Homo sapiens: one gene and its partners. The protein of the gene in region 1 interacts with the protein of each later gene in a pairwise test. Each region holds a gene or a part of one and is shown in the gene's direction. Other genes may lie near its edges. The genes, in order: ABI3, DESI1 and EVL.

Evidence for each region.
Region 2: the proteins of ABI3 (region 1) and DESI1 interact in binary tests that used the Homo sapiens proteins (3 or more experiments, as listed by UniProt).
Region 3: the proteins of ABI3 (region 1) and EVL interact in binary tests that used the Homo sapiens proteins (3 or more experiments, as listed by UniProt).

The regions. Positions count from the first base shown.
Region 1 is NC_000017.11:49,213,707-49,217,306, forward strand, and holds part of ABI3 (ABI gene family member 3), read left to right. Parts: intron 1-2,824; coding exon 2,825-2,992; intron 2,993-3,600. UniProt on the Homo sapiens protein: May inhibit tumor metastasis. In vitro, reduces cell motility.
Region 2 is NC_000022.11:41,618,992-41,622,814, reverse strand, and holds the start of DESI1 (desumoylating isopeptidase 1), read left to right. Parts: upstream 1-1,771; 5' UTR 1,772-1,975; coding exon 1,976-2,063; intron 2,064-3,823. Other genes in the region: XRCC6 (X-ray repair cross-complementing protein 6), read right to left, coding at 729-810. UniProt on the Homo sapiens protein: Protease which deconjugates SUMO1, SUMO2 and SUMO3 from some substrate proteins. Has isopeptidase but not SUMO-processing activity. Desumoylates ZBTB46. Collaborates with UBQLN4 in the export of ubiquitinated proteins from the nucleus to the cytoplasm.
Region 3 is NC_000014.9:100,068,221-100,072,043, forward strand, and holds part of EVL (ena/VASP-like protein), read left to right. Parts: intron 1-3,823. UniProt on the Homo sapiens protein: Ena/VASP proteins are actin-associated proteins involved in a range of processes dependent on cytoskeleton remodeling and cell polarity such as axon guidance and lamellipodial and filopodial dynamics in migrating cells.

The DNA.
Region 1 (3,600 bases):
AGATGCCCAGAGCTGGGCCCAAGCAGACACTTTTCCTGTTTGGGCCAACAATTCCACATGTTCGTTTGGGGAGGAAACTGTACAGAAGAAGGCAGGCAAGCTAAGAAATCTGGGTGGAGATGAAGGAGCAGTCACTGCTCAGTTCTGGGCCTGTTTCCTCATTTAGTAAAGGAAGGTCCTGAACTAAATCAAAATCTGCTCTCCTGTCTGGTGTTAATATCCTGGGTTGATTTCTTTGCCTATTCAATCTTCTTGGTGACCTATGCTGAGGAGATGTAAGTTTTGGTGCATATGCTAATGAGATGTAAATGACATGCAAATGAGCATCTCTTTCCTGCTGTTGGAAAAGAAAGACAAGGAGGAGAGAGCCATCGCATGGGCTGCCCAGAAGGTTCTGGCTCAGGCTCCATTAGAGGCTCCCAGGTGTCTCAGACCTTGCTCTGAGAGTTTGTAGGTCTGTTCTCCATTGACAGGCCCTGAGGGGCACCCGAGGGCTCAAGCAAGGGGACCCCAGTGTGCAGCCTTGCCTGTTGGCCCACTGGCCCTACTCCACATTCACCCTGGACTTGCCCCCTACCTGCCTTAGAAAGGTACAGGCTAGAGTATGGCAACTCCATGACCCGACCAGAGATGAGGAAGCTGCCCGGGGAACCAAAAGACCGGAGAAGTTTTGCCCTAGCCCCCACTGCCTGATCTGGGACCAACAAAAAAAAATTTCTTGGCCAGGCGCAGTGGCTCACGCCTGTAATCCCAGCACTTTGGGAGGCCAAGGCAGGCAGATCACCTGAGGTCAGGAGTTGAAGATCAGCCTGACCAGCATGGAGAAACCGCATCTCTACTAAAAATACAAAAAATTAGCTGGGCGTGGCGGTGCATGCCTGTAATCCCAGCTACTCGGAAGGCTGAGGCAGGAGAATCGCTTGAACCCAGGAGGCGGAGGTTGGGGTGAGCTGAGATTGTGCCATTGCACTCCAGCCTGGGCAACAAGAGCAAAACTCTGTCTCGAAAAACAAACAAAAAAAACTTCTTGCCTTCAGCCACTGCCTGCTTACTCCTCCTGCACTGACTGGCAGTGTGACCCTGGCCAGTGCCTGGCACAGTGCCTAGAATACAGTGGGAATGTGCCCAGAGAATGTTTGGGTTCCCATTCGACCTGCTAATTAACTCACGAGTGCATATTTATGAAGAATCTTTTGCGTGTTGGGTGTGATTCCATGACGGGATACAGGATGAAACAGACAAGCTCCCTGCTCTCATGACACTTCCGTTTAAGGCAAGGGGGCGTAGATAACGAAAAAAATACATAGAGAATGTTTGATACTGCTAAATACCATGAAGAAAAGAGAACAAGGTAAATATGATAAAGAGGCAGTGAAGGCGTGGGCTGGGGGAAATCTTAGTGTGGTGAAGGAAGGTGTCTCTGAGAAGCTGAGGCCTGCTAATAAGGATTCTGAAAATAAGTACAGCACATGCCAAGGCCCCGAGGCAGAAACAGTTCAGCTTGTTCAGGAACAGAAGCCCAATGGCCAATGTGGCTGAAGGGGAGTGTGTGAGAGGGGGAGTGGTGAAGTTGGATTAAAGGGGATGAAGGTGAAGAGAAAGGCAGGAGCCAGACCTGGAGGGGCTGTACGTAGGCCACGGTTAGAAGCTTGAATTTTATCCTCAGGGTATTGGAAAGCTATTAGAGGGAATGAATGAATAAAGTCCCTCTGTTCTGGGCCTCAGTTTCCTTATTTGAGTTCCCAGACACCAATCTGCAGACTGGAGCTAAACAGTCACATGGAAAGCTTTTTTTTTTGGTTTGATTTTGAGACAGGGTCTCACTCTGTCACGCAGGCTGGAGTGCAGTGATGTGATTTTGGCTCACTGCAACCTCCGCCTCCCGGGTTCAAGTGATTCTCATGCCTCAGCCTCCTGAGTAGCTGGGATTACAGGCAGGCACCACCATGCCTGGCTAATTTTTGTATTTTTAGTAGAGACGAGGTTTTGCCATTGTAGCCAGGCTGGTCTCAAACTCCCGACCTCAAGTGATTTGCCCGCCTGGGCCTCCCAAAGTAGTGGGATTACAGGTGTAAGCCACCGTGCCTGACATGGTTTGTTGTGTTTAAAAATGTCGGCTGGGCACGGTGGCTCACGCCTGTAATCCCAGCAGTTTGGGAGGCTGAGGCAGGCAAATCACCTGAGGTCGGGAGTTTGAGACCAGCCTGACTAACATGGAGAAACCCTGTCTCTACTAAAAAAAAAAAATTACAAAATAAGCTGGGCGTGGTGGCACATGCTTGTAATCCCAACTACTTGGGAGGCTGAGGCAGGAGAATCGCTTGAACTCGGAAGGCGGAGGTTGTGGTGAGCCGAGATCGCACCACTGCACTCCAGCCTGGGCAACAAGAGTGAAACTCCATCTCAGAAAAAAAAAAAAAAAAAGAATGTCTGCTCTAGCCAGTGTTGCCTTCCTCTTTCCTTTCTACTATTCACCCCCACTCCAACCCCTAAAAGGACAGCCTGTTACTGAAGTCTTCAGGAGGGTTGTACTATCATCTGTACTCAGTCCTCAGCTTAACTATTTGAGAATGGGTATCTTTCCCTCCCTTTGCATCCATTCCCCAAGGCTGCAGATTCACTTTTTTAAAGTGAATTTAAAGTGATGTTGTAGCAAGTTCCTCTTGCTACATCATTCTGCTGGGAGCCACCTCAAACATCTAAGGGTTGCTGCTCTCTCCCAATCCAGCCCCTACTTTCCCTATATCCTCTCCCATCCCACCCCAGCCAGCCAAGGACCCAGTGGAAGATGCTGGCCCTTAGGCCAGGGCTGTGTGTATTTCAGGCCACAGACAAGCGGAAGGCGCTGGAGGAGACCATGGCCTTCACTACCCAGGCACTGGCCAGCGTGGCCTACCAGGTGGGCAACCTGGCCGGGCACACTCTGCGCATGTTGGACCTGCAGGGGGCCGCCCTGCGGCAGGTGGAAGCCCGTGTAAGCACGCTGGGCCAGGTAAGGGGCGTGGGGCGTGGGAAGGCATCTTGTGTCAGGCCTCAACTCTTCAGCCCGACTCAGACATTTTCTACATCAAAAGTTCCTTCCTGCTTTCCTCCATGTCCAAATGCCCAACTCTACAGCAGAAGGTTGGCACTTCCCAAGCTTTTTGGACCTCCTTATCTCTGTGGCTACGCTACAAATTCCCCGAAGGCAGAGCTTTTTCTTTCTCGGAATTATATCCTGGACATGAGAAAGTGTTATCTACCAATCACAGCAGCGCCCTATACAGGAAAGAAGCAAATGAACCCTGTTTGCATCTAAATACAAGCAGTGCCCTCATAAATATCCCAGACCCAGGGTGCTAGCTTGACAAGGTCATCTTCAGCCCTGGAAGCACAGCCACCACTATACAGTATACACCCTCCACCCCGCCACAGTGTTCTAGCGCACACACCCTCCTCCTTCCTTCCTGGATCCTTGACCGAGGAATTGCCCCATAAAGCACATGCACAGACCCAGCCACACATTTGGCCTGGCCTGTACATCACCCACATGTTCAGTGGGTGGGGTGTGTCTTTTCCTCCCCCGCCGCAGACCAGAGTTCCCACCCTTTCGAACTGTAG
Region 2 (3,823 bases), on another chromosome or scaffold:
CGCCACCACGCCCGGCTAATTTTTTGTATTTTTTTTTTAGTACAGACGGGGTTTCACCGTGTTAACCAGGATGGTCTTGATCTCCTGACATCGTGATCCGCCCGCCTCGGCCTCCCAAAGTGCTGGGATTACAGGCTTGAGACACCGCGCCTGGCCGTTTCTCATTTTTAATAAAAATATTCAAAATTTTTCTGCTCAGGAGTTAAATTAACCAGTATGAAGATTACATGTACCCCTATTTCTCTTCCTTTGTTTTATGTGTTACTGTGTTGCCTGCACATACACTCCCAAACGTGGAGGCTATAGTGAGGGAATCAATCACTTTCCTGTAACTGTGTTGCTTGCGTTTATTCTTTGGTTGGTGTAGTTATTGCAGGGTGGGGGCATTTTTACACTGAGGTCCTGGAATGGTAACACTACTTTCCTGGATGAGAAGGGTCTCACCTGAACCACTTAAGATGACAAAAAATACCTATGGTCATGGCCATTTATCAGGGACCAAAAGATGTCAAACTACCAGTGTCCAAAAAAAACTTAGGGCACACTAGAGTAAGATCTGCATATAAGAGCCTAGGGTAGCTCTGCGAAGTTCAAAGGAAGAAAAGAATTTCAGAATTATCTGGGAGGAGAAGGGCAGGCCATCAAACAGCAAAGTCCATCCAGCAGAGATAGGCAGGGAAGGTCTTTCTTCCACACACCGAATGGCACTACATGCTGAAGTCACTTACCACTTGCTTCAAGGTTCTCTTCTTGTTCTTCCTCTGCTTCTTCATCGCCCTCGGTTTTGTAATATGACTCCCACCCTGACATGTTGGCTACTGCTCACTAGGCGAAAGACGTTAACGTCAGTAACAGGCAAATTTAAATCGAAAAAATACCGACCTCTAGGTTCTTGTGAGATCTGTTCTAAAAGCTTGGTTAGTAGTGAGGAATGTGGACGGTAAATCCTGCTGCCTCGAAAGCTCGGCAGTCGGACTGCATGTAAATGCGCATGGGGGCCATCCCAGTAGCTGCCTCATCTCAGCTATCCCTCACGTTTCAGGGCCGGCGGCGGCCCGCGGAAGCCAGATCCCGGAGGTCCCGCCCCCGACGCCATTTAGACGGTGAGGGATTCCCGCTCCAGGATTCTATGCTGACTAACGGACCCCCTCGTCCTCAATACCGCCCAAAAACCTCCCCAAATTCCTCAATCACGCCCAATGAGATCTCAAACGCAGACAGGCCTCAAGCGCAGGCGGGCCGCAAGCGCAGGCGGGCCTCAAACGCAGGCGGGCCTCAAACGCGAGGTGCCGCCTCCTTCCCGAGGAAGGAGCGTGGTCTCGAGTCTGTCGCTGCTCCTCGGATTCGCACACTTAAGGCTAACGCTAACCCTCTAGCAAGGCTATGGGGGCGCGCGAGACCGACCGAGCGAAGCGGGACGAGGCCAGGCCTAGCTGGCGAACAACACAAATGGATAACGGCCCGCTTACCTTTGGCGCAGGGAAGCGACCAACTTGGACAGAAGACGACAATCCACGCATGCGCGGGCCCTGTACTCGGTCCCAATCAACGCCCTCTACGTCATCACGCATGTGCGCACTATATCGCGTCAGGCTGGCACGCACACTCCCCAACCAGCTTCTACCTATGTCCCTGACGAAAGCCAACCCATCAGCGAGAGCCCCGCCCCCTTCGGCAAAGCCCCGCCCCTTCCTACGTCAGGACTGTAAGCACATGCGCAAAAGTGCATCCCTGCCCCCGCCCCCTCTTCCGTGTGGGCCCTCCCTGTCCCCTCTCTGTCACCTCACAGTAGTCGTTGCCGGTAGCGGGTGTGGGGGCGCGAGCAGCGCAGGGCGGCCTCTCCCCCACCCCTCAGCCCGGGCCCGGGCTCGGTCCCCCCCTCTCCCTCCGCTTCGCACTCCCGTCGGGTACGGGAAGGTCCAAGCCGCTGCCGGGTGCCCGAGGGCCGTCGTGGCCGCCGTCGCCACGGGTCCCAATGGAGCCGCCGAATCTCTATCCGGTGAAGCTCTACGTGTACGACCTGTCCAAAGGCCTGGCCCGGCGGCTCAGCCCCATCATGCTGGGTGAGGGGGAAGGGGCCAGGTGGGCAGGAGGGCGGGAGCCAGGCCAGAGGGTGGCGGCTGGCCGAGGTGGGGAGACTTGGGCCACGACTCACGGGGAGACACATGGCCAGGAGGATGGAAGAAAAGCCGAGTGGAGAAGAGAGTGGTCTGAAGTTTGGGCCATCTGAGCCCCGCTTTAGCCTCGCAGATACCATCCTCACGTTTGAATTCAAGGGGAAGGGATGGAGGAGTCATGCCTCCACCTTGCAGGGGGCTTGGGCAGAAACCGAGCCCTCGAGAGCCCCTTCGACGAGGGTGTGGGGTAAACCAGCGCTGGATCCCGGCGGGTTCTCTGCCTCGCTCGGGTAGCCCAGTGCACTCCTGCCTCCTTGGCGCGGTGTAGGAAAGGTGAGGATGCCTGCCGCGCGGTGCCCCTCGTGGTGACAGAGACACTGCGGAGGTCGGGTGGCTCTCGGAGAACCTTGTCTCAGTGCCAAAAGGAAGCTCCCTTTGCAGTCCCAGGGATAGGTGGGATGGGGGAGATAGAGCTGCCTAGGGACCCAGCCATCGCCCCCAGGTAGGTCAAGTCAGGATAAGAGGAGCCCCGAACTCCAGAATTCACCAAGCAGTCTTCTCCCCACAGTTTCTAAGTTAATTGCTTTTGCTCAAATGGCAAGAAAGCAGTTTTGGGGGAAGTTTGGATGAGGCTGTGTGAATAAGGATTAGTAAAGAAAGTATTTCGGTTGTGCTCCATTAAACTACTTAACTGGCAGGAGAAAAACCAGCCCTCATTCAGTGACGATCACACCTTATTTCAACTTAAATACAGGAATGTCTTGTGTAACACAGGAATTGTCAGGTTTGTAATTTCGGGTAACAATGAGCAGGAAAGAATTCCAATTATTGAAAATTGAAGCTTTGACAGCATCCATTTGAATGGCTAGTTTTTCCTGGCTTCTGTGGAGACACTGGCGAATGATTTAGTTCATCTCTGTGAGACGAGGGGGCAGAGATCAAGTAAGGGAGGCTACTTTTGAGGGCATCCTTCAATGTCCTTGAGTTTCTAATATGTCGTAGTGAATTGAACTTAATCTCACAACCGTGGGTCCATGAGTTGTTTCTATATTTGGCTTCACATCAAAATCATCTAGGGTGCTTGTTAAAAATGCAGATACCCTCATTTCCAACATATATTGTAAATGAGATTAGAAAAAACAAGGTTAGAATAGCTCTTTAAATATGCAAATCAAAGGATATATATGTGCTTGCTTAGGCAAATAATTATCCGTAAGGATACACAAGAAATTGATAACAGCAGTAGCTTATGGAAAGGGGAACTTGATGCCAGGGGAACAGGGGTAGAAGAGAAACTTTGCTGTAAACTGTTTCTTACCTCTGGACCTGTGTATTACATACACATAATATCTATTTAAAATGAGAAAATTTTAATTATATGGATTCTAAGGCTTCACAAATACTAAATCAGAATCTCCTGGAGTTTTGGTCCAAAAATCTGTATTTTTAATGAGCTTATCAGCTAATTCTTATGTAGCCAACCCATTATTTGACAGGGATTTGGGCCTAGATAACCAGTTGTTAAAATGATTGAGGCACATCTGAAAGCAAAACTTACAAAGTCACTGAGGAAGCTGTTACTCATTAATAGATTACATCAGTCAAGTGTTTTTTTTTTGTTGGTTTTTTTTTTTGAGACGGAGTCTCGCTCTGTCACCCATGCTGGAGTGCAGTGGCACGATCTAGGCTCACTGCAAGCTCCGCCT
Region 3 (3,823 bases), on another chromosome or scaffold:
AGCAAGTATCCTCAGCTGGGGACGAGGCCCTGAGATAGGAATGGTTTGGTGGGTTCAAGGGTCAAGAAAAATACAGAGGCTGGAGCAACATGAAGAAGGAAGAGTGAAGGCAAATAAGGGCACAGAAGGCTTTATCAGGCCCAACGGCAAAGCCTGCGAGCTGTGCTGAATTTAGCGCGTATGTCAGAATTTAGTTAGGGGAAGCCTTTGGAGGGAGGGTTTGAAGCAAAGGGAAAGACATCTCATAGAAGCTTAAGAAAATCACTCTGGGCCCTGTGTGGATAATGGCTGGCAGTGTGGCAAGAATGGAGGCAGGATGACCTCTTGGGAGGCTACCGCAGTCATCCAGGTAAGAGGTGAGGGTGGTTTGGGCCAGCAGTGGAGCAGTCAGGGTAGGCGGTGAGAAGTCACCAGATTCAGGAAGTGCCGTGGTGCTGTAGCCTCCAGGACTATCTGGTGGATCACACATGGGCGTGGGGGAAACATGAGTCAGACATGGCTTAGGTGGGTGGTGATTCCTTTCACCACGCTGGGGCAGCTGGGGTGCTAGCTGGAAGAATCTGTAGAGGTGTGGGCCTAGCAGCACAGGTTCCCAGGAAATGTGGGTTGAACAAGGCTGACCTGAGCAGGAAGTAGCTGAGGTCGCGGTGCAGCAGCAGGAAACGTGATATGGATGTGTGATATGTCTGCCACTTTTGGGGCCAGCCAGTTAATTTCGTTTCCTTCCCTGGTCTCTCTGTTGTCTTTGGTAGGCTGTGGGTTTTTCCGAAGCACGTACTATCTTCTAACGTATTATAGAACTTACTTGTTCTACTGTATACTGTCTTTACCCCTCAAGAATGTAAACTCCCAGAAGGCAGGGATTTTCGCCTATTTTGTTCAGTGGTGTATCCCCAGTGCCTAAAACATTGCCTGGCAATACACATTTATTGAACTGCTGGATTTAATTAACTACTTTGATATATGGTCCTAAAGATTCCTGTGCTACCAAAGTTGCTACTCAGTGGAGCTTCCTGGTGTGGCATGTTAGAGAAGAGACCAGAAAAACAGACATTTCACTTGCTGTCAGGTAGTGAAGGAGCTGTGGCTGCTTGGGCACAGTCATTACTGTTTATTCCACTGTGCTGCACATCTTGAAGCTGTAAAGATATAAGAAGTCTCGCACAGCCGGGGTTCAGCTTACAATCCTTCGCACCTAATTGTACGCCTTTGTGTGAGGGTTTGGAGGAGTCTCCAGGAACACCTGGTGTTTCCTTTCTCACAGGTATTTCCAGTCCTCACGGGCAAGTCAGAGAGTCCCAGAGGCAATTGAACAAGCCCTCAGAGATCACGTAGTCCGTTCACTCTCCATGGGAACCCGCACTTCCCTAGAGACCTGTAGCCAAATCATTTGGAGAGCTTCTGAAGCTTCTCTGCCTTCCTCTGTCTCAAAGAATCCCATGTGCCTCTAGTTGAGAAACATTCCTCTGGAGATTCTAGGTTATTCTCATGAGAATGTTACGATACTCAGGTGGGCTGGGGCAGAAAATGGATGAGAACTAGTGTAGTCCAATGGCTTTGCTTTGGTAACTGAACCCACAGAGGAGGAAAATAACAACAGCTCAGCTTTTCTCAGTGTTATACACCAACCATTACGCTAGTTACATGATATACATACTATTTAATTCTCATCCTTTGAGGTCTGGTATCACTATTGCCACTTTACAGATAAGAAAACAAGGGTTGGCCGGGTATGGTGGCTCACTCCTGTAATCCCAACACTTTGAGAGGCCAACGCAGGTAGATCACCTGAGCTGAGGAGTTCAAGACCAGCCTAGGCATCATAGTAAGACCTCCTCTCTTAAAAAAAAAAAAAAAAAGAAAGAAAGAAAATAAAATTAAAAAATGAAAATTAGCCAGATGTGATAGTGCATGCCTGAAGCCTATAGTCCCAACTTCTCAGGAGGCTGAGGTGGGAGGATTGCTTGAGCCCAGCAGTTCAAGCCTGCAGTGAGCTGTGATCACACTACTGCACTCCACCCTGGTGACAGAGCAAGACCCTACCTCAAAAAGAAAAGAAAACAAGGGCCTACAAAGTATCGTATTCCAGGTCACATTGTTGTCACTTGACGGAGCTTTTGATCTCTGAGAGGATCAAAATCTGCCCTCTCAGCTTTAACTTCTCAAAGCTAAACTTGTCCCAATTTGCAGAGTCAAGGGTAGAATCGAGGCCCTCCTGATCTCTATTTTGCAGTCTCCGTCATTCTGTGCTGTTAATACCACAAGAGACAAAAGAGACCTCGTCTGTCCTGTAGCACCCCGTGCCTGCGTGCGTATCTCTTGTCGATGCTCTGTCGGCTCAGGATCTCTCCTACCAGCCTAGAGCTCTTTCAGAGCAGGACGCTTGTGTTATGCATTCATGTTTGTCCCTGTGCCTAGTAAATAGCACAGAGTCCAAGTGGCTACTTGTGTCTTCAGGGGTGTTTGTAAGGGCAGAGCCGGGGTCTTCATTCCCAGGCTGTTGATTCATCCTTGGAGCTGAACATACTGTCCCAATCCTTGGCCCAAGCCAGGCCTCTACAGTTGTCCCAAGGCTGTGCTAAAACCTGTTCCACTTCACAAGTGATCAGAGTCACAGACTCTGGGGACACAAATTTTGAGATGAAGACACAGAGCAAAATATATAAATGTTTTTGAGGTTTGAGTAGCCTTAACGTCCACGTGGCTGTCAGATGGCTCCCCAAAGAAAGGGCTACGCCGGTGGCCTTGAAAGAGTATGGGAGATGCATATGAGACAGGGTCAGTCTAGGAATGTCAGACTCCCCCAACAGTTGGTTGGAGTGTTTTTCCAGATTGCACCAGACTTCACAGAGTAATGGAGACCAGCTGTCCAGGCATCTGAGAGGGTGACATCCAAGGAGAAAAGGCAAACGTCTTGATTGCCCATGATGTGGGCAACCAATTTGGATAGAAAAGAAGGTGTCAGGGTTTAACACTGAATGTAGACTTTATTTACCCAAAGCCTTTCTTTAATTCTAACACTCTCAAAAATGGGGCTCAGTCACCATTTGGGTTTCCCATGTTAATATGCAGAGAGCTAATTCATTGTCTTTCATTGCTGTAATGCAGCAGTTCTCAAAATGTACTCCAGAGATTGACCCTCCTAGGAGTCTGTAGATCAGAACTGTATTTATAATATTACTAAGACATCATTTGCCATTTCAGCTCTTGTCTCATGAATTCATGGTGGAATTTTCCAGAGCTATGTGATGTTTTGACATCATCACTGTGGCAGCTAATGAAATGTCTGCTTGTATATTCTTGTGTTTTAAAAAATTATTAGTTTTAATTTCAAATAAGGTGAATATGGATAGACTTAACCTACATAAAACAGAAGCTTTTTGGCATCCTCAATAATTGAGTGTAAAGGGGTTCTCTTGACCAAAAAAGTTTGAGAACTATGTGTGTAAAATAGTCAGTTGTATGGCTGCACTACAGACAGCAAGCATGGAATTGAAAATACCACCTGCAAGGTGGCGGTTCCCCCTGGTAGAGAGGAGGGGCTCTGGGTCTGGGAGGAGGATGCAGGCGTCACTTGAACTAAACAGCTTTATGACTTGCTGTCAGATTTCCTAGACTGTGTGGTGGGATCGTGGGAACCTACTTCTCACAGGCCTGAAGTACTTCACAATAAACATTTTAAGTCTACTTCATAGCATGAAACCTGTTTCACACCTGTGCCCATTAAGAAAAAAAAATGGCACCCTATAAATGATTTAATAATTACTAAGGGGAAAATATAGCTTTCCATTGGAGATCTGGCAGTCACCTCTTAACCAACCTA